7 linked regions of the Homo sapiens genome follow. The protein of the gene in region 1 purifies or fractionates together with the protein of each later gene. This does not show direct contact. Each region holds a gene or a part of one and is shown in the gene's direction. Other genes may lie near its edges. The genes, in order: ZNF397, COP1, P3H4, CAMK2B, RPL4, ZMAT2 and P4HA2.

The links.
Region 2: the proteins of ZNF397 (region 1) and COP1 purify together in Homo sapiens (affinity purification with mass spectrometry; 4 studies listed by BioGRID and IntAct, with this or other methods). This does not show direct contact.
Region 3: the proteins of ZNF397 (region 1) and P3H4 purify together in Homo sapiens (co-immunoprecipitation; one large-scale study listed by IntAct). This does not show direct contact.
Region 4: the proteins of ZNF397 (region 1) and CAMK2B purify together in Homo sapiens (affinity purification with mass spectrometry; one large-scale study listed by BioGRID and IntAct). This does not show direct contact.
Region 5: the proteins of ZNF397 (region 1) and RPL4 purify together in Homo sapiens (affinity purification with mass spectrometry; one large-scale study listed by BioGRID and IntAct). This does not show direct contact.
Region 6: the proteins of ZNF397 (region 1) and ZMAT2 purify together in Homo sapiens (co-immunoprecipitation; one large-scale study listed by IntAct). This does not show direct contact.
Region 7: the proteins of ZNF397 (region 1) and P4HA2 purify together in Homo sapiens (affinity purification with mass spectrometry; one large-scale study listed by BioGRID and IntAct). This does not show direct contact.

Annotation. Positions count from the first base shown.
Region 1 is NC_000018.10:35,244,034-35,247,170, forward strand, and holds part of ZNF397 (zinc finger protein 397), read left to right. Parts: intron 1-1,228; coding exon 1,229-2,277; 3' UTR 2,278-3,137. UniProt on the Homo sapiens protein: Isoform 3 acts as a DNA-dependent transcriptional repressor.
Region 2 is NC_000001.11:176,197,287-176,200,786, reverse strand, and holds part of COP1 (E3 ubiquitin-protein ligase COP1), read left to right. Parts: intron 1-3,500. UniProt on the Homo sapiens protein: E3 ubiquitin-protein ligase that mediates ubiquitination and subsequent proteasomal degradation of target proteins.
Region 3 is NC_000017.11:41,805,450-41,808,949, reverse strand, and holds part of P3H4 (endoplasmic reticulum protein SC65 precursor), read left to right. Parts: intron 1-945; coding exon 946-1,091; intron 1,092-2,070; coding exon 2,071-2,154; intron 2,155-3,500. UniProt on the Homo sapiens protein: Part of a complex composed of PLOD1, P3H3 and P3H4 that catalyzes hydroxylation of lysine residues in collagen alpha chains and is required for normal assembly and cross-linking of collagen fibrils.
Region 4 is NC_000007.14:44,228,095-44,231,594, reverse strand, and holds part of CAMK2B (calcium/calmodulin-dependent protein kinase type II subunit beta), read left to right. Parts: intron 1-540; coding exon 541-589; intron 590-2,093; coding exon 2,094-2,207; intron 2,208-2,670; coding exon 2,671-2,799; intron 2,800-3,500. UniProt on the Homo sapiens protein: Calcium/calmodulin-dependent protein kinase that functions autonomously after Ca(2+)/calmodulin-binding and autophosphorylation, and is involved in dendritic spine and synapse formation, neuronal plasticity and regulation of sarcoplasmic reticulum Ca(2+) transport in skeletal muscle.
Region 5 is NC_000015.10:66,497,515-66,499,685, reverse strand, and holds the end of RPL4 (large ribosomal subunit protein uL4), read left to right. Parts: intron 1-33; coding exon 34-279; 3' UTR 280-1,671; downstream 1,672-2,171. Other genes in the region: SNAPC5 (snRNA-activating protein complex subunit 5), read left to right, coding at 1,955-2,044. UniProt on the Homo sapiens protein: Component of the large ribosomal subunit. The ribosome is a large ribonucleoprotein complex responsible for the synthesis of proteins in the cell.
Region 6 is NC_000005.10:140,703,447-140,707,186, forward strand, and holds the end of ZMAT2 (zinc finger matrin-type protein 2), read left to right. Parts: intron 1-471; coding exon 472-545; intron 546-979; coding exon 980-1,125; intron 1,126-2,166; coding exon 2,167-2,310; 3' UTR 2,311-3,240; downstream 3,241-3,740. UniProt on the Homo sapiens protein: Involved in pre-mRNA splicing as a component of the spliceosome.
Region 7 is NC_000005.10:132,203,854-132,207,353, reverse strand, and holds part of P4HA2 (prolyl 4-hydroxylase subunit alpha-2 isoform 2 precursor), read left to right. Parts: intron 1-3,201; coding exon 3,202-3,272; intron 3,273-3,500. UniProt on the Homo sapiens protein: Catalyzes the post-translational formation of 4-hydroxyproline in -Xaa-Pro-Gly- sequences in collagens and other proteins.

The DNA of each region.
Region 1 (3,137 bases):
AGCTGCAAATGGAGAATCATGTAAGGAAGGCAAGAGTATAGTCCTATTAAAGACTGCTGTAATCCAAGTGGCCACAGTGTATTCAATCAATATGTGTTATGGTAAGCGGTGGAGAACATAAAAGCTGACTCCTGTTCAACAGCATTTAAGTTGTTTTGCAACATCTGGTAATTATTAAAACTAGAGTGTGAGGGAGAGGAGTTGAGGATGATACTGAGGTTTCAGTCTTCAACAGTCTGGTTAATGGTAGTACTGTTCATGTGAATGAGAAAACATAAGGAAAAACAGATACATCTGATGATGTGTTTAGGTTGGTACATTTGGTGCTTGTGAAATATTCAAAAGTAAAATGCCCAATTAGCATAAGACTCTAGAGCTTAATAAAATATGGATATAATTGGGGATCTGGGCAGACATTAGTCAGACAATAGCTTACAATGTAAGATGTAATGGAAGCCAAGGGTAGAGAGTTTGTAGAGTAAGGATACATGAGAGCCCAAAACAGAATCTGGAGGAACGCTCGTGTTTGAGTGATTTACCCTAGAATCTAAGAAGGAACAGCCACAGAAATCAGGCTAATATCACTGGAAGAGAATGTCTCTAGAAGGAAGGTGTGATCCTCAGTGTCAATGCTACAGAGAGGCTAAGTAATAATCTAGAAAGTACTTAGTGGATTAAAGAGCTATGAAGTGATCTTGATGAGAGTAGTATCAGTGGAAGTAGGGGACGGGGCGGTGGGGGGCGGGGGAGGACAGTAAGGCAGAAACCAGATTGTGGAATGAGGATACTTTCACTTGAAAGGCTGCAGACAACTCTTTCAAGAAATCACTATGAGAGAGTGAGGTTGCGAAACCACTTGAGAGAGAGTGAGGTTGCTTGAGGGAGATATGTAGGCAAGAAGGTTGATTTTAAAAGGTGAGAGACACTTAAGCTTATTTAAAAGCTGATGAACAGGAATCAGTTGAGAAAGAGATTGTAAATAGTAGAAAAAAATTGTAGGTAATTTATCAGTTGATGTCTCAAAAGAGGCAGGAAAGGATGGAATTCGAAGTGTAGATGTAGACTTTATTATTAGATAAGAGAGACCCTCTTTTGGCCAGTTGAAAAAAAAGATACTGGAGGACAGTGACATCTTTGTAGGTAGAAGCTTCTGTTTTCTCTCATGTAGAAAGTTTTGACGGTGACAAGAGAAATGTAATATCTGTTTTTTTGCTACTTATTGTTTCAGATTGTGAGAACAGTGAAACAGCAACAAAAGAGGGCATCTCAGAAGAAAAATCACAGGGACTCCCTCAGGAACCTTCATTTCGAGGAATTAGTGAGCATGAAAGCAATTTAGTGTGGAAGCAAGGAAGTGCTACAGGGGAGAAACTAAGATCTCCTTCCCAAGGGGGCAGTTTTAGTCAAGTGATCTTCACAAACAAATCTCTAGGAAAGAGAGACCTTTATGATGAGGCTGAAAGATGCTTGATTCTAACTACAGACTCTATAATGTGTCAGAAAGTTCCTCCAGAAGAGAGACCTTATAGATGTGATGTATGTGGGCACAGCTTCAAGCAGCATTCCTCTCTAACACAACATCAGAGAATCCATACTGGAGAAAAGCCCTATAAATGTAACCAGTGTGGGAAGGCCTTTAGTTTGAGGTCCTATCTTATTATTCATCAGAGAATTCATAGTGGTGAGAAAGCATATGAATGTAGTGAATGTGGGAAAGCTTTCAATCAGAGCTCAGCCCTCATTAGACATCGGAAAATCCATACTGGTGAGAAAGCTTGTAAATGTAATGAGTGTGGCAAAGCATTCAGTCAAAGTTCATATCTCATTATACATCAAAGAATTCACACTGGTGAGAAACCTTATGAGTGTAATGAATGTGGGAAAACCTTTAGCCAGAGCTCAAAACTCATTAGACATCAGCGAATTCACACAGGAGAGAGACCCTATGAATGTAATGAATGTGGAAAAGCTTTCAGGCAGAGCTCAGAGCTGATTACTCATCAGAGAATACATAGTGGAGAGAAACCCTATGAATGTAGTGAATGTGGAAAAGCTTTCAGTTTGAGCTCAAACCTTATCAGACATCAGAGAATTCATAGTGGGGAGGAACCTTATCAGTGTAATGAATGTGGCAAAACTTTCAAAAGGAGCTCAGCCCTTGTTCAGCATCAGAGAATTCATTCTGGGGATGAAGCTTATATATGTAATGAATGTGGGAAGGCTTTCAGGCACAGATCGGTCCTTATGCGCCATCAAAGAGTCCACACTATAAAGTAATTTGTGAATACTGTGAATAGTGTAAATACTTCAGTCAGATTTTTAAGTTTGTTAGTCAAAAGAGTTTACTTTGGAGCAAAACTCCATAAAGGTTATAAAATACTAGGTCTTGAGTCTAGCTTGCTTTGTGCAGCATTTCCCAGTGCTAATGTAAAGTGTCCCTTGAAAGCTTTTCCTGTGACTAATCAGAACAGAATACAGAAGAATCATTACTTCCAGCTCTTCTCTTATTAGGAATACTCAGGAAATACGAAAAGTGGGAATGTAACATTGAAACCTCATTTTGTATGAAAGTGTCATGAATATAGCAACCCAGGCTCTGTCACTGCATCTGATTGTTAGTGTGCCAGGTTATGGGGCTGGTGTGGACTGTGTGAGGCACTTCGTCTCAGGAACTAAAAAAAAAAAAAAAACTGACCCAATAAAGAACAGTGACAGAGCAGCAGGAAAGGTGGGGAAATGGCTTCATCAATGATTTGTTGAGCCCAGGGCAGGCCAGGAATTAGATAGGCATGAGAAGAAAGAATATAATTTACCCAAAGGTTATTTTTTGAGTACCTACTTTGTCCCAGGAACTAGGAATACAGTGGAAAACAAGACTGTAGTCTCTACAGTCTAATGGGCAAGGCAGCCAGACAGGCAGTGAAAGTGGAATGCTCCTATGTGACCTTAAGGAGCACCTGACTCAGCCTTGGATAAGGAAATGGGGGAAATGGCCTGAAGGATGAGGAGGAGTTAGCCAAGGTGGTACTCTAGGGAAGTGGTACCCCAGTAAAGAACAGTAGCCAAAGGCCAGAAACAAAGTGTGGAGCATTCCTTGAGTTCCTGTTGTAGTGAGGTCTTGTCTGTCAGAGAAGTCT
Region 2 (3,500 bases), on another chromosome or scaffold:
TCTTTCTTTATGTGTGTATGAGCCAAGTTCTATTCAGATAGGTTGGTACTTTCTCAAACAATATATTCACTGAGAGTAACATGTTTTTCTTTATACTTAAAATATGTTAGTTGTCCTTTCATTTTTCACAATTAAGTTTTATGAACTGATTTTGCCTCTGTTTCTATATAAAGTGAAACATAGAATGCAGTAGGTGATCTGATTTCTGTTTATTGTATTTCTGGTGTAACCATTGGGAATCCATCCTTCTTTCCTAATCTGTGTGGTTTGGGGTGGTACATTTTTTCCCCAAATTCAGAATTGGAACACATGATCCATGCTCAAGTGTCTAGTGCATTGGAATCCTCTGTCTTTAGTATTAATTCACAGATGGGCATTTGGCTCTAAATAGAGATAATGAGACAAAGTAGGCTTTGTAAAAATTACGACTGTTTTGGGGGTTCTTTTAGATATTTGAAACTCAAACGTTCATAAATGCCAAGTCCACTCAAGTGAAGATGGAATGTGTTGTACTGACAATTAGTTTGGGACAAATACTCATAATAATAAGTGCTCAAATATAAATTGCTATTTGCCAGGCACTATTTTAAAGGTTTTACGTTACTTGTTTAATCTTCACAACAACTGTTTGCTGTAGATACTCTTATAGTTCCCATTTTGTAGATGAGGAAATGTGGCCCATAGAGGTTATATAACTTGTCTCAGTTACACGGTTAATAATGGTGGTACCAGTATTTATATTCAGACAATTTGGCTCAGAGGTCAGGTTCTTAACCACTATTACAAATGGTTACCCAAGTTAACCACCCATTTCCTTGCCTTTATTTAGAGGCTGATTTTGTTTAAAATTAGCTTTACTAAGTTATAATTTGCATAAAATAAGTCACTGGTCATAAGTGTGTAGTTGAATGAGTTTTGACACATGAATACACCTGTGCAGTCACCACCCTAATGAAGATATGATACATTTCCAGAAAGTTCACTTTTGCCAGCACTTCATACTCTGTGTCTACCTTCACACCTAACACCTGGCAACCAGTGATCTGCTTTGCATTGCTGTCATTTTGCCTTTTCTGGAATTTCATATTAATGGAGTCCTTTAGTCGGTAGTCTTTTGTGTCTGGTTTCTTTCGTTTGGTATAATGTTTTGAAATACACTGATGATGTTGAGTGTACTGTTTTTTTTCTTTTAATTGCTTAGTATTATCCCATTATATGGATATAACATGAACTGCTTATATATTTGCTAGTTAAAAGATTTTTGACTTGTTTCTAGTTTTTGGCTATTATTTAGAAAATTCTGTAAGCATTCAGGTTTTTGTGCAGACACGTCTTCACATTTTTAGGGTAAAAATATCTAGTAGTGAATTGCTGAGTTCTCTGCCAAGTGTATGTTTAGTTTTAAAATAAACTGCAAAACTTTTTAAAAACTGCCTCTACCATTTTGCATTTCTTTTTTATCTTTTTTTGAGATGGGAGTCTCATACTGTCGCCCCAGCTGGAGTGCAGTGGCACGATCTCAGCTTGGTGCAACCTCTGCCTCCTGGGTTCAAGCAATTCTCCTGCCTTAACCTCCCGAGTAGCTAGGATTACAGGCGCCCGCCACCATGCCAAGCTAATTTTTTGTATTTTTAGTAGAGATGGGGTTTCACTGTGTTGGCCGGGTTGGTCTCGATCCCTGGACCTCATGGTCCCCACGCCTCGGCCTCCCAAAGTGCTGGGATTACAGGTGTGAGCCACCACACCCGGCCACCATTTTGCATTTCTACCAGCAACAATTAAAAGTTCTTTTATTTGGTTTGTATTTATTTCTTGTATTGTTTTATTTGTTTTTAATTGTTTCACATCCTTGCCAGTGCTCAGTGTTTTCAGTCTTTTAAATATTAGTCATTTTTGTGGATATGTAGTTTTATCACATTGTTATGTAACATATTTTTATGTGCTTATTTTTCATTTGCATATCTTTTGTGAAATGTCTGTTTTGATCTTTGGCCCATTTTTTCCCTTAAAATTGCATGTCATCTTGCGTTGTAAGTGTTCTTTATGTATTCTGCATACATCTTTTGTCAGACCTGTGTATTGTGGTATTTTCTCTTAGTCTGTTGCTTATCTTTTCATTTTCTTAATAATTTTTTAAAGTGCAAAAGTTTTTTCTTTTTTCTAATGTATCGATAAAGTTTTCAGTTTTAAGTCCAAATTGATTTTTATTATTTTTAATTTTTGTGTTCTAGCTAAGAAGTTATCTAACATGAAATTAGAAAACATTCTCTTGTATATTTTCTACTAGAAGATTTATAGTTTTCTTATGGTTATGATCCACTTCAAGTTAGTTTTTATACACTGTGTTTGGTAAGGGTTGAAGGCTTCATTAATATTATAACATCATTTGTTGAAAAGATCATCTCTGTTCATTGAATTTTCTTGGCACCTTTCTCAAAAATTAACCATATATATGAGTTTATTTCTGCAATTTTTATTCTGTCCCGTTGGTGTATATATGTTTATCCCTACACAAGTGCCACACTGTTTTGATTATGGTATTATTATAGTACATCTTGAAATCAGGTAGTGTAATTTTTATCCTTTATTTCAAAGTTGTTTTGATTATTTATGTTCTTTGCATTTCCACATAAATCTTAGGATTAGCGTGCCAATTTCTATAAAAAAGGATGTAGGATTTTAATGTTGGTTACTTTGAATCTGTGATTTCATTTGGGAAGATGACATCTTAATATTATCTTTTGAATCATGAACATAGTATATTTCTCCAATTATTTAGGTCCTCTGTAATTTCTCTTAGCAGTGTTTATGCTTTTCAGTTGAGGTTTTTCACCATATTTTTAAAATTTACCCCTAAGTATTTTATGTTTTTGATGGTGTTCTAAATGTTGTTCTTTTAATTTCGATTTCTAATTGTTGCTAGTATGTAAATACACTTTTTTTATGTTGACCTTGTATTTTATGAAATTTTAAGTTTACTTACTAGTTCTAATAATTTTTTGGTAGAACCTATAGGATTTGTAAGAAAACAGTCATGTTATCTGTATATGAATATACTTTTACATCTTTTAAATTTATATGCCCTATTTAAAGAACGTACGTTAATGGATTTATTTGATTGGGTAATTGTTTAAAAGGATTTTTTGGACCTTTATTAGTGAGTGATACTGGTCTGTGAATTTCTTTTAATTTTTTTCTGGTTTTCATATCACAGTGTATTGGTTTGCTTGGGCTGCCGTAACAAAATACAACAGACTAGGTGGCTTAAACAACAGAAATTTATTTTCTCATAGGTCTAGAGACTAGAAGTACAAAACAATGTGTAGGCAGATTCGGTTTCTTCTGAGGCCTGTTTCCTTTCTTTTTTTCAAAAGAGGTGGTCTTGCTGTCTCGCCCAAGCTGGAGTACAGTGGCACCATCACACTGCTTACTGCATCCTCGAACTTCTGGGCCCAAGGGATCCTCCTCCCTCATCTTCCTAGTAGCTGGCTCTACAGGCA
Region 3 (3,500 bases), on another chromosome or scaffold:
ACTGGGGCTGGAATGGACAGCCTCCAGTGTTCCTGCAGCTCGGAGATGCCAAGATTCAGACAGAGCCAGGAGTCAGAGCAGAGGGGCTGAGAACCCAGGGGCCAGGAGACCCTTCCTGGGTACACATAGCAGAGAGGCTAAGGGCCTCTAATTCACTAGAGCCATCATTCTCCAGCTGTGTGAGCTTGAGCAATTTATCTAACCTCTCTGTGACTCAGATTTCTTGACTGTAAAATGGGGATGACAGTAATAGGTAGGCATGGCTGGGCACAGTGGTTCACACTTGTAATCCCAGCACTTTGGGAGGCCCAGGCAGGCAGATGGCTTGAGCCCAGGAGTTCGAGACCAACCTGGGCAACATGACAAGACCCCGTGTCTACAAAAAATACAAAAAGTTAGCCAGGCATGGTGGCGCGTGCCTGTAGTCCCAGCTACTGGGGAGACTGAGGTGGGAGGATTGCTTGAGCCCAGGAGGCAGAGGCTGTAGTGAGCCGAGATCACACCACTGCACTCCAACCTGGGTGACAGAACAAGACCCTGTCTCAAAACAAACAAAAACATACAAAAAATTAGATGGGTGTGGTGGTGCCTGCTTGTAATCCCAGCTACTCAGGAGGCTGAGGTGAGAGGATCACCTAAGCCTGGGAGATCAAGCTTGAGGTGACCATAATTGCACCACTGCACTCTAGCCAGGGTGATAGAGTGAGACCCTGTTTCAAAAACAATAAAAAGACAATAACAGTGAGGCTTAGATGAGTTAGTCAGGGCCTGGCATAGGGTAAGTGCCCACTACATGCTAGCTGGCATTATGCTTGGGTGGGATAAGGAGCCCATTAGGTATTCTGGGAGGTGGCTGGGTAGCAGGGGTGCTGGACTGAACTGGAAGATGGAGTTGACTCTGAAGGGGAAGTGCCAGAGCAATTCCTCACCCCTGTCCTGCTGCAGTGAATGATGTGCGCCAGGCTGCCCGCAGCGCCGCCAGCTACATGCTCTTCGACCCCAAGGACAGCGTCATGCAGCAGAACCTGGTGTATTACCGGTTCCACCGGGCTCGCTGGGGCCTGGAAGAGGAGGACTTCCAGCCCCGGGAGGTGGGCACTGCTTTCTGGGGCACTTGCTGGATATGCACTTTGTAAAAAATGAACTCCTGGCGGCCGGGCGCGGTGGCTCATGCCTGTAATCCCAGCACTTTGGGAGGCTGAGGCGGGTGGATCACGAGGTCAGGAGATCAGGACCATCCTGGCTAACACGGTGAAACCCCGTCTCTACTGAAAAGAAAAAAAAATTAGCCAGGCATGGTGGTGGACGCCTGTAGTACCAACTACTCGGGAAGCTGAGGCAGGAGAATGGCGTGAACCTGGGAGGCAGAGCTTGCAGTGAGCGGAGATCGCGCCACTGCACTCCAGTCTGGGTGACAGAGCGAGACTCCGTCTCAAAAGAAAAATAAATAAATAAATAATAAAAAATAAACTCCTGGCTTCCATGGAAGGCAGGATGGGAAATGGAAAGAAAGAATATGAGTTGAGGTTAGAGTCCTGGCTTCAGAGCCCAGCCCCACTGCTGTGTGGTCCTGGGAAGACCATGGCCCTTTCCTAATCTATTGCCTCACCTGCAAAATGGCAGTGATACTGCCACCTCACCAGCAGTGTCCAGACGAGGGAGGTATGAAGGTACACATCCACTCCTACCTGCTCCCCTCCCTACCTTCATTACCCTCACTGCTGACCTTTGTCCCTCTTTCCCAGGAACACCCTAGGTAACCAATGGAGGAAATCTGTTGGAGTTGAGGGCCAGGCTGGCAAATATGGGGCACATGGTGCCACTCCTGCCTTCCTTGTCAGTGGCAGACATTGCTAATCGATTGAGGGACTCTTTGTCACCAAACTCTCAGAATCCTTAACCCAGTGTTCCAAGCAGCCACGATGATCTGATGAGCTTGTGAGCTGATACCTATTCTCTGATCCTTGAGCTAGAAGAGGGCCAGTGGGCCCAGATCCTAGGAGCCCTGGCTTCTTGCCATCTGGCAACAGGGTATGGCTCACCCCCCACCCCGTCCTTCCCTCCTTCCAGGAGGCCATGCTCTACCACAACCAGACCGCCGAGCTGCGGGAGCTGCTGGAGTTCACCCACATGTACCTGCAGTCAGATGATGAGGTGAGTGCCTCCTGCTTTCCAGGATTGGGCTGTGATGGGGACACCTTGGACCTTTTCCTGGGGCCACCAGTGTGCCAGAATTCAGCCCCAGCCCCTGGTGGTCAGCTGTCGTGAAGAAGAGAGGTTTGCCTGTTCCTTGTCTAGACTGTCCGTTCCTTCCCCAGCCTTAGTATTCTCATGTCCTCCTTTTGTACATGTCTCAATCCTGTTCCTCCCAGGCCCAGCTCACATGGTGCCTCCTCCAGGAAGCCCTTGCTGCATGCCCTGGCTCTTTGTTCTGGGCTAGCAGTGCCCACTCTGACCTGTGTGCCTCCCTGGCCACCTGTGGCCTGGACCTGGGTGATTGCAGCCCTCGTCCATCTCAGCCCTGGGCCCCTTCTCCAGCCAGTATCCAGGAGAACCGCACTGCAGGACACAGGGCCACATTATTCCCTGTTCTCCCACATCCTGCACAGAGCCTGGGCTCAGAAACTGAGTTTGAATGAACCAGTGAATGAATGAATGCAGGACCTCAGGACAGAAGGACCGTATTGTATTACATTGATTTATTTTATTTATTTATTTATTTTTTTTTTTTGAGATGGAGTCTCGCTCTGCCGCCCAGGCTGGAGTGCAGTGGTGTCATCTCAGCTCACTGAAACCTCTGCCTCCCGGGTTCACACGATGCTCCTGCCTCAGCCTCCGGAGTAGCTGGGATTACAGGCGTGCACCACCACGCCTGGCTAATTTTTGTATTTTTAGTAGAGACAGTGTTTCACCGTGTTGGTCAGGCTGGTCTCGACCTCGTGACCTCATGATCTATCTGCCTCGGTCTCCCAAAGTGCTGGGATTACAGGCGTGAGCAGCCGCACCCGGCCCTATTAACATTGATTTCAAGTGAGGGTTTGACAGCCTTAATTTCTCTGAGGTGTTGCTGCTCAGTGCTCATTTATGTATCCTCTCCTTTGTTCATGCCCCCACGCCCCCACCCATCCAACCCCAGAGGAGGAGGGCAGAATCTACACCGTCAGCACCCAGGATGAGGAACTAGCCAGACCTGGCTCCATTACTTACCAGTTGGGTGGCCTCCAAACAAGTGTCAGGCAACCTCTCAAGCTTCTGTTTCTTCATCCATTGAATGGGGAGAATCATGCCCATCTCACATTGTTGTGGTGAGAATAACACAAGATCTGGCCGGGTATGGTAGCTCATGCCTGTAATCCCAGCAATTTGGGAGGCCGAGGCAGAGGGATCACCTGAGATCAGGAGTTCAAGACGAGCCTGGCCAACATAGTGAAACCCTGTCTCTATTAAAAATACAAAAATTACTCAGGTGTGGTGGTGGGCACCTGTAATCCCAGCTACTG
Region 4 (3,500 bases), on another chromosome or scaffold:
GCCTCACCCTGTATTTTGGATGACACCGGCTGCTGCTTCATTGGAACCAGCCAGTCCCATTGTGTTTTACGTCTTGGAATTTCAAAAAGCCCATTTTCCTCTCTTGTTAAAGAGTCAGCTGAGCATACCAGTCTCTCTGCCAGGCTCATCTTGCTGGGAGAAGTGGAGCCCTCATGTGTTGGGGATGCAGGGTGGCCACAGCACTAGGGTGGCAGGGCCGGCCTCGGACTCCGTGCCAGCCTGTGCTGGCTGCCGTGAGAATGCACCCTGGTGAGGGGCGCCCTCCCAGGGACCAGCACAGAACTGGGTGTCTTCTCCGGTCACTGCCGCATGAGGTCCACAGAGCTGGGGCCCTGCAGCCGCCAGAGGGCATGTCCCCTGAGCCCCTGGCCTTTAAGCCCCGTGGAAGCAGCCGAGGCAGAGATCAGCTTCAGAGCCTGGGCTGGTCCTGACACAGGCCCAGCCCTGTCCACCTGCCCTCAGCCACGTCCCACCTATCCTTGGCCGCATCCTGACCCGCTGCCTCCCGTGTTTCCTCAGGAGTCTTCTGACAGTGCCAATACCACCATAGAGGATGAAGACGCTAAAGGTACCTGCACTTGAGTCCTTGCCCCCCCAGCGGCCTTGGCATTGCTGGGTTGCTCTTTGAGGTGGGTGGGACTTGGGCAGGGTCAACTCTCCTGCGACGCCTAGTTTATGCATGTGTTGAGGGGCTCAGGGACCCTGTAGCTGTAATCCTGCTCCAAGCCTGGGTGTCAGGCCTGCCCAGAGCGGAGAAGCATGGCAGAGATGACCGACAGCTGGGCAGTCTCGGTCACCGCATCCAAGTGAGGAAGCCACGGCTTTGCATGGAGGCAGGTTCTCCACACCAGGACCCTCACGGGGAAACAGGCCCATGGGTAGAATTTGTTCCAAGATGCTGTCCTTGTCTTAAAGCTCCTTAAGCTTGCGTTTCTGTCCAGCATGCACTTGCCAAGTGGCCGGGCAGCTGGGTGAGTGTTTCCGTGTTTGCCTTTGCTTAGCCAGGAGTGTCCTGCTGCGGTGGGTTTCTGCACCACAGATTCCAGGGCCCCCTCCCTTGCTCACCCAGGCCAATGTCTTGTGTGTTCCCCAAGAGGCCCCCAGGGCACCAGGCACTGGGGCATGCTCCATGGATTCTGCCGCCTCCAGACCACCCACATGGGGCCTCCTGACCCTCATCGCTCACACGGTCACCTAATAAGCCTTATGCTGTTCTCAGGGCTACCCTGGTGCCCAAAAAGGGTCAGCCACTCTGCCAGTTTAGGGGAGAAAACTTCTCACCTGTCCAAAGCATAGCCTTGCTCCTGCCCGGCCTACCCAGCTATGACACTGTCCCTGAGCAGAGATGAGCACAGGACTTTGGGCCCTGGATGCCGGAGAGTGGGTGTTTGTGTGATTCCCCTGCAGTCTGGAACAGGCCCCAAAGGCAACAGCATGAAGGCTGTCCAGAGGTTCTCCATCACCCTCAGCCGAGTGGGGTGCTGAGCAGTGAGGGAGGGGACCTGGGAGGGGGGCCCAGCCTGGATCCTGCAGGGGAGAAGAGAAGACAGCCAGAAGCCAGCAGCTGTGGCTCAGATCTGAGCCCGAGCAGCCTCTCGAGGTGGAGGCAGACACCCCCCACCCCACCCCGTGCAGAAAGAAGCCTTGCCAGCCTGCCCTGAGGCTGGTACAGAGTCCAGGCAGGCTCAGTGGCCATCATGCCCCTACGATGACTGTCACTCCCTCTCCGTGCGCCTGGCCTCTGCTGGCTCTGGCCAGGGGTGGTCACAGCACTAGGGTGGCAGGGTGGCCTCTGACTCTGCGCCAGCCTGCACTGGCCTGTGCTGCCCTGGCCTCTGCTGGCTCTGGCTCTGGCACCGGTCCCGTGTTGGCTCCTTCAGCCTTCACATACCTGCTGCGGCCACCACAGGCCCAGGACCCCCACAGGTGGCCACCCCACCTCCACCCCAGGAGCCCCAGGTATCCAGCTGTCACCCCCTCCCTCCCTCCTGGCCTCCCCCTGTCCTTCTCCAGTTGCCTTCTTTTCCTGCGGGCGCACCACCCACCTGCCTGCCTCACCTGTTCCGCCTCAGCCCCCAGGGTCCCCGACATCCTGAGCTCAGTGAGGAGGGGCTCGGGAGCCCCAGAAGCCGAGGGGCCCCTGCCCTGCCCATCTCCGGCTCCCTTTAGCCCCCTGCCAGCCCCATGTAAGTAGCCTGGGTCCTGCTGCTGTGGGGGTCATGTTGGAGGGCTGGCAACCCCCTAGAGGGGCCACTCCAGAGCCGAGGGCAGGCTGAGCGTGGACCCTGGCTCCAGCCTCATCACCCCACAATCCCTCACTGGGGCTTTCCAGGGTGGCCCCAGCCCATCGAGCCCCACCTCTTTGTGAGGAGGGCCCTGGACCACTTTCCTGCTCAAGGCCACTGGGCAGGATGGGAGGCCCTGGAGGCTCGGGCCTCAATTCCAGTCTTCAGGGTCGGTGCAGGCCTCACTCCACCTCAGCTTGCGGGCGGGGGGGCTCCCTGCTATTGAGGCAGGCTCTGATTCAGGGCCTGATCCCAGGGCCCAAGGGGTCTAGAACACGGGACCCCTCCCACTGGCCTCCTCCGCCTTGCCGCCGCCTCGTGTGTCTGTCTGCCTCATGTTCACGTCTCATCTGTTCCACCCCAGCCCCCAGGATCTCTGACATCCTGAACTCTGTGAGAAGGGGTTCAGGAACCCCAGAAGCCGAGGGCCCCCTCTCAGCGGGGCCCCCGCCCTGCCTGTCTCCGGCTCTCCTAGGCCCCCTGTCCTCCCCGTGTAAGTAGTGGCCCCCAGGCCTGCCGCCTCTGCTGCCGGACAGCTCCCTGCGAATGGCCGGCGCTCAGCAGCTTCCCACCTGCATGCACGGCCCAGCTACCCTGCCCCGGCGCCGCAGCCTGGAGTCCTGCCCTGGCGGGGCTTCCTGTGGGCTCCCATGCTAACCAGCAGGGCAGCTCCTGGCTTCTCCCTAAGGGGCCCAGACCCCTCCACGGCTCCTGCTCCCACTGCCACTCCCCGCTCGCTGTCCAGCCCCAGGCCCCTCTCCAAAATGTCTGTCCCAGCCCTGGGCAGCCCTGGCCCCTCCGAGGCCCCCCATGCCCCTAGGCCCTCTCTGCTGATCACTGTCCCAGCCCCACAGACTTCACACCCACCCAGGGGCCCTGCCCATGGTGCCCAGGAGCTGCACTCAGGGCCACCCTGGTTCCTGATGTGGCCCCAACCCCTGAGCACCCTCCCTCAGTCTAGGAGGCTGAGGAAGGTGCCAAAACTGGAACCCCGACCAGGGTCTCTGGAGCTCACCAACAAGGGGATAGTACGGAGAATCATAAGCCTGGCCTCTGCTGACCTGGGCTGTCCTCATGGGGCCAGGCCAGGCCTCCTCTGTAACGCCCGTGACTCCCTCCTCTCCCTGTAACCCCGTCCAGCGTTCCTCAAGGGCCACTTACCTGACAGCTTCTTGCTGGCCAGCAGCCTCTCCC
Region 5 (2,171 bases), on another chromosome or scaffold:
GATTCTTACTGTTTTCTGCCTAATTTGTTGCAGCACAAGCTCCGGGTGGATAAGGCAGCTGCTGCAGCAGCGGCACTACAAGCCAAATCAGATGAGAAGGCGGCGGTTGCAGGCAAGAAGCCTGTGGTAGGTAAGAAAGGAAAGAAGGCTGCTGTTGGTGTTAAGAAGCAGAAGAAGCCTCTGGTGGGAAAAAAGGCAGCAGCTACCAAGAAACCAGCCCCTGAAAAGAAGCCTGCAGAGAAGAAACCTACTACAGAGGAGAAGAAGCCTGCTGCATAAACTCTTAAATTTGATTATTCCATAAAGGTCAAATCATTTTGGACAGCTTCTTTTGAATAAAGACCTGATTATACAGGCAGTGAGAAACATGACTTGGTGTGCTCTGTAAAGCTTGGTTAGAATTTTTTTAAAGTGACATTTTGTTGGCCATAATTTAGACTGTTACATTTTATATAGTGTGGTATAAAATGGGGCATGGATTTATACTAAGTCCATGGAGTTCAGTGGAAGGGGAATGATTTAAAAAAAGTTGTGGTTTTCTAAATAATGTGGCTTGAAAAATAGGTGTAACAGGACTTGGTCAGAAACGCAGAGGCTGTTCAAGTTTAGCTCCCCACCAGATGGAAAATAGGTTAAATTCTGTAAAGATTTAACTTTAACCACAAGAGGGCACAACTGGAGAGCACAATTTTTTTGGTACTGCAGTAAAATTGATTACCTCTTGAGAAGTGTTCTTTTTAACCAGCTATAACAATAGAGTTGAGTATTTTCACCCATGGTTTGAAAAAGTGCCAGAAGGCCACACTGGCCCACATCTGTAATCCCAACACTTTGGGACCCTAAGGTGGGCAGAGCACTTGAGCCAATGAGTTCAAGACCAGCCTGGTCAACATGATGAAATCTCGTCTCTACTGAAAATATAAAAAATAGCCAGTCATGGTGCATGCCTGTAACCCCAGCTACTTGGAGGCTGAGGCAAGAGAATCACTTGAACCTGGGAGGTGGAGGTTGCAATGAGCCAAGATTGTACCATTGCCCTCCAGCCTGGGCGTCAGAGCAAGACTCTCTGAAAAGTACCAGAAGCATTTTTCAGGACTGCCTGTGTGTCTTGGTGATTATGTTAACCAACTGTGTTCAAAAGAAGTACCCATGAAATGCCTCCAGATATAAGGGTGTTTTTTTTTACCCATAAAGCTAAACTGCAAATATTACCCTAGAATTAACCTCTTGTCCTGTGTCAAAAGTCTTGTTTTGCATCTGGATTGTTAAACTGTCAGCTTCTCTCTGACAGTCTCGAACTGTCAAGACAGTCTCAGTTCACAGCCAAGGTGATCTGTTAACCCTCCCCATTTCCAGGGCCAAATCTCAGTTCTTAAGCACGTCGTTTCTTAGCACGGCTTTATTTTCATGCTCTTTATTTCTCTATTTTGTGCAGCCTTACCCCTTTAAAGTCCACTGTGAGTCCTACCCTGCAGGGCCTCTTAACACAGTAGAGTTCATGTGCTACTGATTTGGTGCCTGCCTTCAAACACATGTGCAAGTTTTGTGGGGTTAAAGATAGCCACTTGGTGGCACACCACATTGGAAGTGCTGTTCACCCGGTCATTTGAAACGGTGTTTGACCACTTGGTGCGCAAATGGCCTATCGGATTAAAGGATAGCCAAACCCAAGATTTCTTCAGGTTCTTTACAGCTCCATGGATCTAATTTCAAAATCCTGATCATTACTCATGAATCAAGGTGTTTTGACACAGGCTGTACCCCTTCCTGCAGCTCGTCCCCCGCGGAGTGGCCAGGCTACGGCGGGCGCCGGAAGGGGGCGCACTCCTCGCCTTTCCTCAATGTGTCGGGCAGCCCCGCCTCCCCGCTCGGTTTCCGGGAGTCGGCGGCGATGGCGTCATCACCGAGTGCCGGGCCGACAGCAGCCCGGAGGTTGGCTATGTGACCAGGCAACATGCTGAGCCGGCTTCAGGAACTGCGCAAGGAGGAGGAGACGCTGCTGCGGTTGAAGGCAGCCCTGCACGACCAGCTGAACCGCCTCAAGGTGACCCCGCGGCCCTCTCCTGCCCCTCCTCCATTCCTCCCGAGCGACCATTTCCCCCCAACCTGGGCCTCTGTGGTGACCACCTGCTGCGGCCAGTTCTCCGCTACTCACTAGCTGTGGTGGCGCC
Region 6 (3,740 bases), on another chromosome or scaffold:
TAGTCTCGAACTCCCGACCTCAGGTGATCCGCCCGCCTCGGCCTCCCAAAGTGCTGGGATTACAGGCGTGAGCCACCATGCCCGGCCACCCCATAGACCTTTCTATAAGACTGCTCACAATAAAGCAACTGGCTTCCCCAGAGCAAGTAACCCAAACAAAGACAGAAGGCATGGTTTTTAAAATAACCTAATTTTGGAAGATACTACTTTTGACATATTCTATTGGCCAAACAGACCAACTCTGGTACAAATTGGGAAGAGACTACACAGAGTAGGAATACCAAGAGGGTGGGGCTCATCCTGGGGCTGTCTTGGAAGATGACTGCTATACTCTCTCGAAAGCTAAGGCTTTATAGAAATGAAGGCTTAACACTTCTAAAAAGAAGTTTACCTAAAAATTTGAGTTTCTTGGTTGAAAATGATAAGATCCTTAAAACCATATTTGACTCAGGTGCTGTTTCTTCCTGTTAGATATTACTGCAATGTCTGTGACTGTGTGGTGAAGGACTCCATCAACTTTCTGGATCACATTAATGGAAAGAAACGTAAGGCTTGGAGGTAGCTTGTGACTAGGGCTGGAATTGGGTTTTGGAGGTGGGGTGGAATGGAAGGGTAGCTTTTTTTTTCTTCTTTTTACTCATCAAAAGATGGCTGGAGTAAGAAGGGTAGTTTCTACTGGGCTCTTTTTTGATGCCCCTATTAGAACTCTCCAGTTGTTTCAGCACAGGCCGTCTTTTACTTCATTATGTAATATTTCTGGAGGCCGTGAGGTAAGAGGCCTCATTCTGGAGGCCATGAGGCTTTCAACAGCACCCAAACCATGTGCTGCTCCTGGACCCAGCTGGCCAAGGGAGTTTCTTTTAGCCATAATTATTTTTGCTGTGTGTTTTATGAGATGTCAGAGAAGTCAGGAAAATAATTTTTGAGGGGCTGAGGATGTTGTAATGAACTTGCCTTCTTCACTGTTGACCCTATGCAGATCAGAGAAACCTGGGCATGTCTATGCGTGTGGAACGTTCCACCCTGGATCAGGTGAAGAAACGTTTTGAGGTCAACAAGAAGAAGATGGAAGAGAAGCAGAAGGATTATGATTTTGAGGAAAGGATGAAGGAGCTCAGAGAAGAGGTAAGGGTCTCCTATCCTTCCCCTCTCCCCCAGATTTGAGTTTTATGTTATGAATCATGGGAGACCCTGTCCTCATCCCACTCCTACTCCCACCCCCAGAGTTGTATCTCCTGAGTTCTGTATATTAGCGGAAACATTTGTTGCCTTTGTTTAGGATTCTCATGATCTGAAGGAAATGGCTCTGAAACTACTTTTTTCTCCTAGACTCTCTGGGCCTTATTTTTTTTTTTGTAATTTAAAAAAAAATTTTTTTTTTTTTTGGTCATACAGATATTTCTCAACTTCTGATGGGGTTACCTACTGATAAACCTATCATCAAGTTAAAAATATCATAAGTCAAAAATACATAATACACCTAACCTACTGTAGTTTAGCCTAGCCTACCTTAATGTGCTCAGAACACATTAGCCTACAATTGACCCAAATTATCTAACACAAAGCCTATTCTATAATAAAGTATTCATCTCATTAATTTATTGAATACTGTACTGAATGTGAAAAACAATGGTTGTATGGATACTTGAAGTACAGTTTCAAATGCATGTCAGTTTTTCACCATTATAAAATTGAAAAATCTTGTCAGCATCATAAGTTGAGGACTGTCTCATCTGTATTCTTTGATTTAATTTTTTTAAAAGACTAAACTTTTTTTAGAGGAGTTTAGGTTTGCAACAAAATTGAGAGGGAGTTATAAAGATTTCCCATATACCCACTGTCCCCCACAACATGCATAGCCTCCCCCATAATTTTTTTTTTTTTTTAACTGCAAGAGGAATTAACTAAATGTACCTAGTCCTAAAGAGACCCATGAAATCAGGCTGACTGGGTCAAAATTCTGTTTCTTCCACTTACTGGCTGTGAATCTTGGGCAAGTTATATAACCTCTTTGTGCCTCAATATCCCCATATTAGAGATCTTAATATACATGAAGTACTCAGAGCAATTTCTGGCATGTACTGCATGCCCCAGAATGTTAGTTGTTGTTACAAACAACATTTGGCTGAGGAGTCTAAACTGATTCTGAGTGATTTTTCCCTCCAGGAGGAAAAGGCCAAAGCGTACAAGAAAGAGAAACAGAAGGAGAAGAAAAGGAGGGCTGAGGAGGACTTGACATTTGAGGAGGACGATGAGATGGCAGCTGTGATGGGCTTCTCTGGCTTTGGTTCCACCAAGAAGAGTTACTGAGGCTTTCTGTGCTTGGCCTGACTTTGGCCTATGCTGGACCTAACTTTGCGTGTGTGTGTGTGTAGTAGGGGGTCATTTCTTTTTGGGTAATGGGAAAGTTCTTAAGAGTGTCAATGGGGAGGGATAGAGGGTGGGGGCTCATGGTTTCCCTCTACTTTGGGAGAGGGCACAGATTGCAGAGGTAATGCTGTGGCATATTGCTTCTGCCTCAGTGTATCACTGGAGTCACAGGACCCTGCCCACCTGAGTTCCCAATAAAGAAAAACCTCCCCTTCTGAGGCTGCTTTCCCAAAACTCCCCCTGCATCTTTATCTCTTCATCTATCCCACCTCTTGTCTGAACATCCCACCTTTATCCTGTGTTCTGCCTTTGTTTTAATTTTAACTCATGTTCATCCTGCAACAGAAGCATTCTCTAGGTCCCAGTTTCCAGTTGATTGCATATCCTTGATCAGCCCTTTTTCCCATCCTGCCCTATGGTTCTCTAGCCACCTGTGCATGCATGTGTATTTCTGCCTGGTTCTATGGTGTGTGGATGTGTGTGCATGAATCTGTCATATAGAGGGGGTCCGAGCTGGAATCCTAGAGCATTGCTGCCCTGGGGCCTGATGTTCTTGGCTTCCTCAGAGCATGTAACAGGAAATTAAATGGGATGAGTGTTTGGTGTGGTTTGTGTCTGATGAGTTTTTTAACATTCAGGTGTAGATTGTTTCAGCTTCTCATGTTTCATTTTCCTGAAGATTTATGTTTTTGTCTACCTTGTGAGCAGGCTTTTGGAAGAACCTGTTTGATGCAAAAAAGAAAATGAAAAACAAAACAAAAAATCCCCAAAACCTTATTATGGGAGCCCGTCGGTCTTAGAAGCTGTTTGACATGTATAATAAATGGCATTGACTGGGCCTGTTTTACATTTGGTGAGAACATTCCATAATCTTCCCTGTGAATATTTGTTTTTCCTTCTCATGCTGAGGATTTCCATATAGAGTATTTTATTCTTCCATTTTAAATCTTATTTTTGCCTAGGTTTTTTTTTAGCATGAGTTATGTTTTCGTCTGATAAGGGATCTATGTCCAGAGAAGTCTGAACCAAAACGATTCCTATCATTTCAGACTCCTTTGATCTTTTGTTTTTGGAACAGCAGAGCTCAGGATTGAACATAATGTTTTTTCTTTTTTTTTTTTCTTTTTTTTGAGACAGTCTTGCTCTATCGCCCAGTCTGGAGTGCAGTGGCGTAATCTTGGCTCACTGCAACCTCCGCCTCCTGGCTTCAAGTGGCTAATATTGTATTTTTAGTAGAGATGGGGTTTCACCATGTTGGCTAGGCTGGTCTCAAACCCCTGACCTCAGGTGATCCACCTGCCTCGGCCTCCCAAAGTGCTGGGATTACAGGCGTGAGCCACTGCACCTGGCCCTTAGTGTTTTTCTTACTG
Region 7 (3,500 bases), on another chromosome or scaffold:
TCCTGATTAGGACTGTAAATGAGGTGAATGACTTAGAGGAGAATGTATATCTTTATAATATTGGGTCTTCTCATCCAAGGGCATGACAGGTCTCTCCATATCTTTTTAAGTTTTCTTCATATAAGCCTTGAACATTTCTTAAGTTTATTCCTTGGTAGTTTCTTTGTTACTGTTAATTTACTTTATTTCTTCATTATTATTTTTAACTGGTTACATTATTTTATTAGTTTACTATTATATGCCAAACTATTGATTTTACAAATACATTTCATAGTAAGAGCTAATGTTTACTGAATTCTTAACTGTGGCAGGAACTTCTAAGTGCTTAACATATATATTAAGTGTTATGTCACAGTTATGAACAGCTGCTCATAATGATGTCACTGTCTCTGTTTTACCTATGAAAAAGCAAACTCATACAGATTGCAGCTAGTGGTTGAATTTACTTATTTCTTTTTTGGTTTTTAGCTGATTTCTCTTTGGTTGCCTGGATAGCATTAACACCTGGAAATAAGGAAAATTTTATTTTCTCCTGATACTTGTAGTTCCTTTGTTTTTATAACCTTATTGAATTGCCCAGAACTTCTAGAGCATAATTACGTAGAATAGGCATCCTTGTCTCATTCCTGAATTTCCTGGAAATTCCTATGGTATTTTACTGCTAAGAATGCAGTTGGCTGTTGGTTTTGTATATATGCCATGTTTTAAAATTATTCTTCTGTTTCTAGTTCATAAAAGATTTGTTCCCCATTTGACATCTTTCAAAGAGACCTATTTGCTGCCATATCCCATCACTGATGATTGGGAGGGAGGATTTAGCTCGATTCTCTATTGCTCTGCTCCTAATAGAATTGTAGGGGCCGAGGTGACCAGGAGGCCCGACACTCATGGAGAGACCTGAAATAGGTTCCTATCCTGGCCCCTGGACCTCATCTTGGAACAGCTTTGGCTTGAGGTACTAGGACATCTAGGGCTTTGAGTCAGTGGTTGGCATCATCGATGTGGCTGAGGAAGGGGGCTAGCCAGATATATGGAGAATGGGGACTAGGACTCCCCTTTCTACTCAGCTCCAGAGTCCTCCAGGAAAGAAAACTACTTTGTTGGTTGTGCCAGGATTTCCTGAGAGATTTCTTACCCGTTCTTCAGTTCCAGACACTGAGAACATTTCTCTGTGCATGTGTGCATATGTGTACACATGTGTGTGGCTGGCCAGAGGGTAGTGTTAGGAAAAGATATATTTGAATAGAAGCCATGCAAAGAGCCAAACAAGGTTGGCAAACATGTTTGGCTCTTAACATGGCTTCTATTCAAAGATAAGCTGACCCCTCCTTTCCGGAGACTGTGAGGGACAGATGCTATTCTGGCTTTGAAGTAGAGCCAATGAGCTTAACTTGGCCTGTGGGGAATGCCTGGCAGCTGTCTGTGGGGTCTCTGGCCTGCTTTCAAAATAGCCCTGTGCTTCCCCTGGGGCAGAGCACAGCTGCTCAGAGCCTCTTTGTGGGTGTCAGGCCAATGCTGAGGCACAGATGTTTGGATGGGGTCTGGCTGTGGCTGCAGTTTTCAGGGAGGGACTGACATGAGCTGAAGCTCAGGAAGGGCCATGAGTAGGAGCTTGGGAGCCGTCTGTCCTGCTTGTGCTGGCCATCTTACCAGATCATGCCATAGCAGCACAGTGTCCAAGTTGGTCCATCTCACCCCCTTACTAGCCTTCTGGTCCATCTACTCCTCTCCATCCCTTCTGCCACCACCTGGCCCGGGCCACCATCATCTCTTGCCCTGACCTCTGTCGTGGCCTCACTAGCCTCCCAGTCCCCACTCTGGCCCCTCATTAGTCAACTCTCCATGAGGTATTCACAGTGATCCATTTTACATTCACATTTTGAGTGTCCCTCCCCTGCATAAAGCCTTCCCCATTTCTCGTTGGCCACAAGGTTGCATCTAGTTCCTAGCCCCTGCTTGTCTCTTCAGCCTGTTCTCTCTTACTACTTCCCATAACCTTTAATCCACACCTACTGCAACACCCATTTTCATTCCCAGGCCTCTGGATTGCTGCTCTTTCCCTGTTCCTGTAATGTTCCTCTACTTGGATAACTCATGTTAACCCTTCAGGCCTCAGCTAGGTGGTCTCCTCCCCTAGGAAGCTATTCTTGACACTATACCCTGAGCTTCCACAGGATGGTAAGTTCACCCATGCTGTGCTGCAGTTACCTGACTGGTTTTCTGCTTTCCCCACTTGACTGAGTTGTAAGAGTGCAGGGGCCATGTCTCAGTTACCTAGCATAGTGCCAGGCACAAAGTAGGCACTCATCAATATTTATTGAAATCAAGGGGAAGTGTGTTGGGGTGGGAGTACCTGGGCCTATGGCCCCACCCATGTGAGGTCATGAGGACAGTCCACAGCTGAAGCACATGGACCTTTGCCATGTTGGCTGGCTCTGGGCGGCGAGTCCCCCTTGGGGTTTCACTAAGCCTAACTGTGGAGGCTGGGGGAGATGAAGTAGATGCAGGGAGTGCATGTGTAGTGTGTACCTGTATGAGTGGGTGGCTTCCAGGCAGTGGTTCACTTATTTTAACTTACAGAATCTTTTCCTGGTTTTATCATCTGACTTGTAAGGATCCCAAGGGAGCGAAAACTGTGCCATCTGTCTTTGCTTCTTGAGGCTGTGGGAACCCAGTGTGAGGTGGTGCAGCAGGAGAGTGTTTGGATGGGTTTCTTGGCAGAGGAGCCCACTGAGGTTCGGAAGGATGGTGGAACTTGACTCAATTGAGAGAAGTACATAAGGCGGAGGCTCAGGCATGGTGGCACAGTCTGAAAATGGTGGGAGTAGCTAAGCTCAGGCAGGCTGTGCTCAGGCAGGGGTGGTATGTGGGCCTGGCAAGGAAAGGGGCTAGTCAGGCAGATGCATGGGTAGACAAGGCAGGCATAATTCTGCAGGCAAAGCGGACCTGGGGAGGAGAAGGGATGAGCAGTGACCGAGCAGGGCAATAGCCAGGAACTGATTGCGGATTGGGAATGTGGAGGCCTCAGACTCTTGCCCTCAACTGGCCTGCAGGATCTTGGGGCCTTGGCTAGAGCCATTGGCTGCAAAGCTTCCTCCACTAGCATGGCAGTAAATCTGGTCCCAGTGCTCTCTGGGAAAATATTCAAGGCAAAACAAACAAACAAACAAATCAAGTCTTCCCTCTCCTCCTTCCTTCTAGCTTGCACGAGCCACCGTTCGTGATCCCAAGACAGGAGTCCTCACTGTCGCCAGCTACCGGGTTTCCAAAAGGTAAGCAAAGAGCAGGGGTTCGTAGCTGCTCAAGCCCCAACTTCAGGACTTCTCAGTGCCTACCCTAGGGATGGGTGGCTTGCCTTTTCCTGCCTGCTGGCACCTCCTCACCCCCTTGCAGCAGGCATCCTGTACTGCCTGTTCATGCTGGCCCTGACTCTGGGGACAGAGTTCAGGACCTCATGGAAGCCTGCCCTTCCGTCTTCTTTTCTCTGCCCTTTTCTTTTT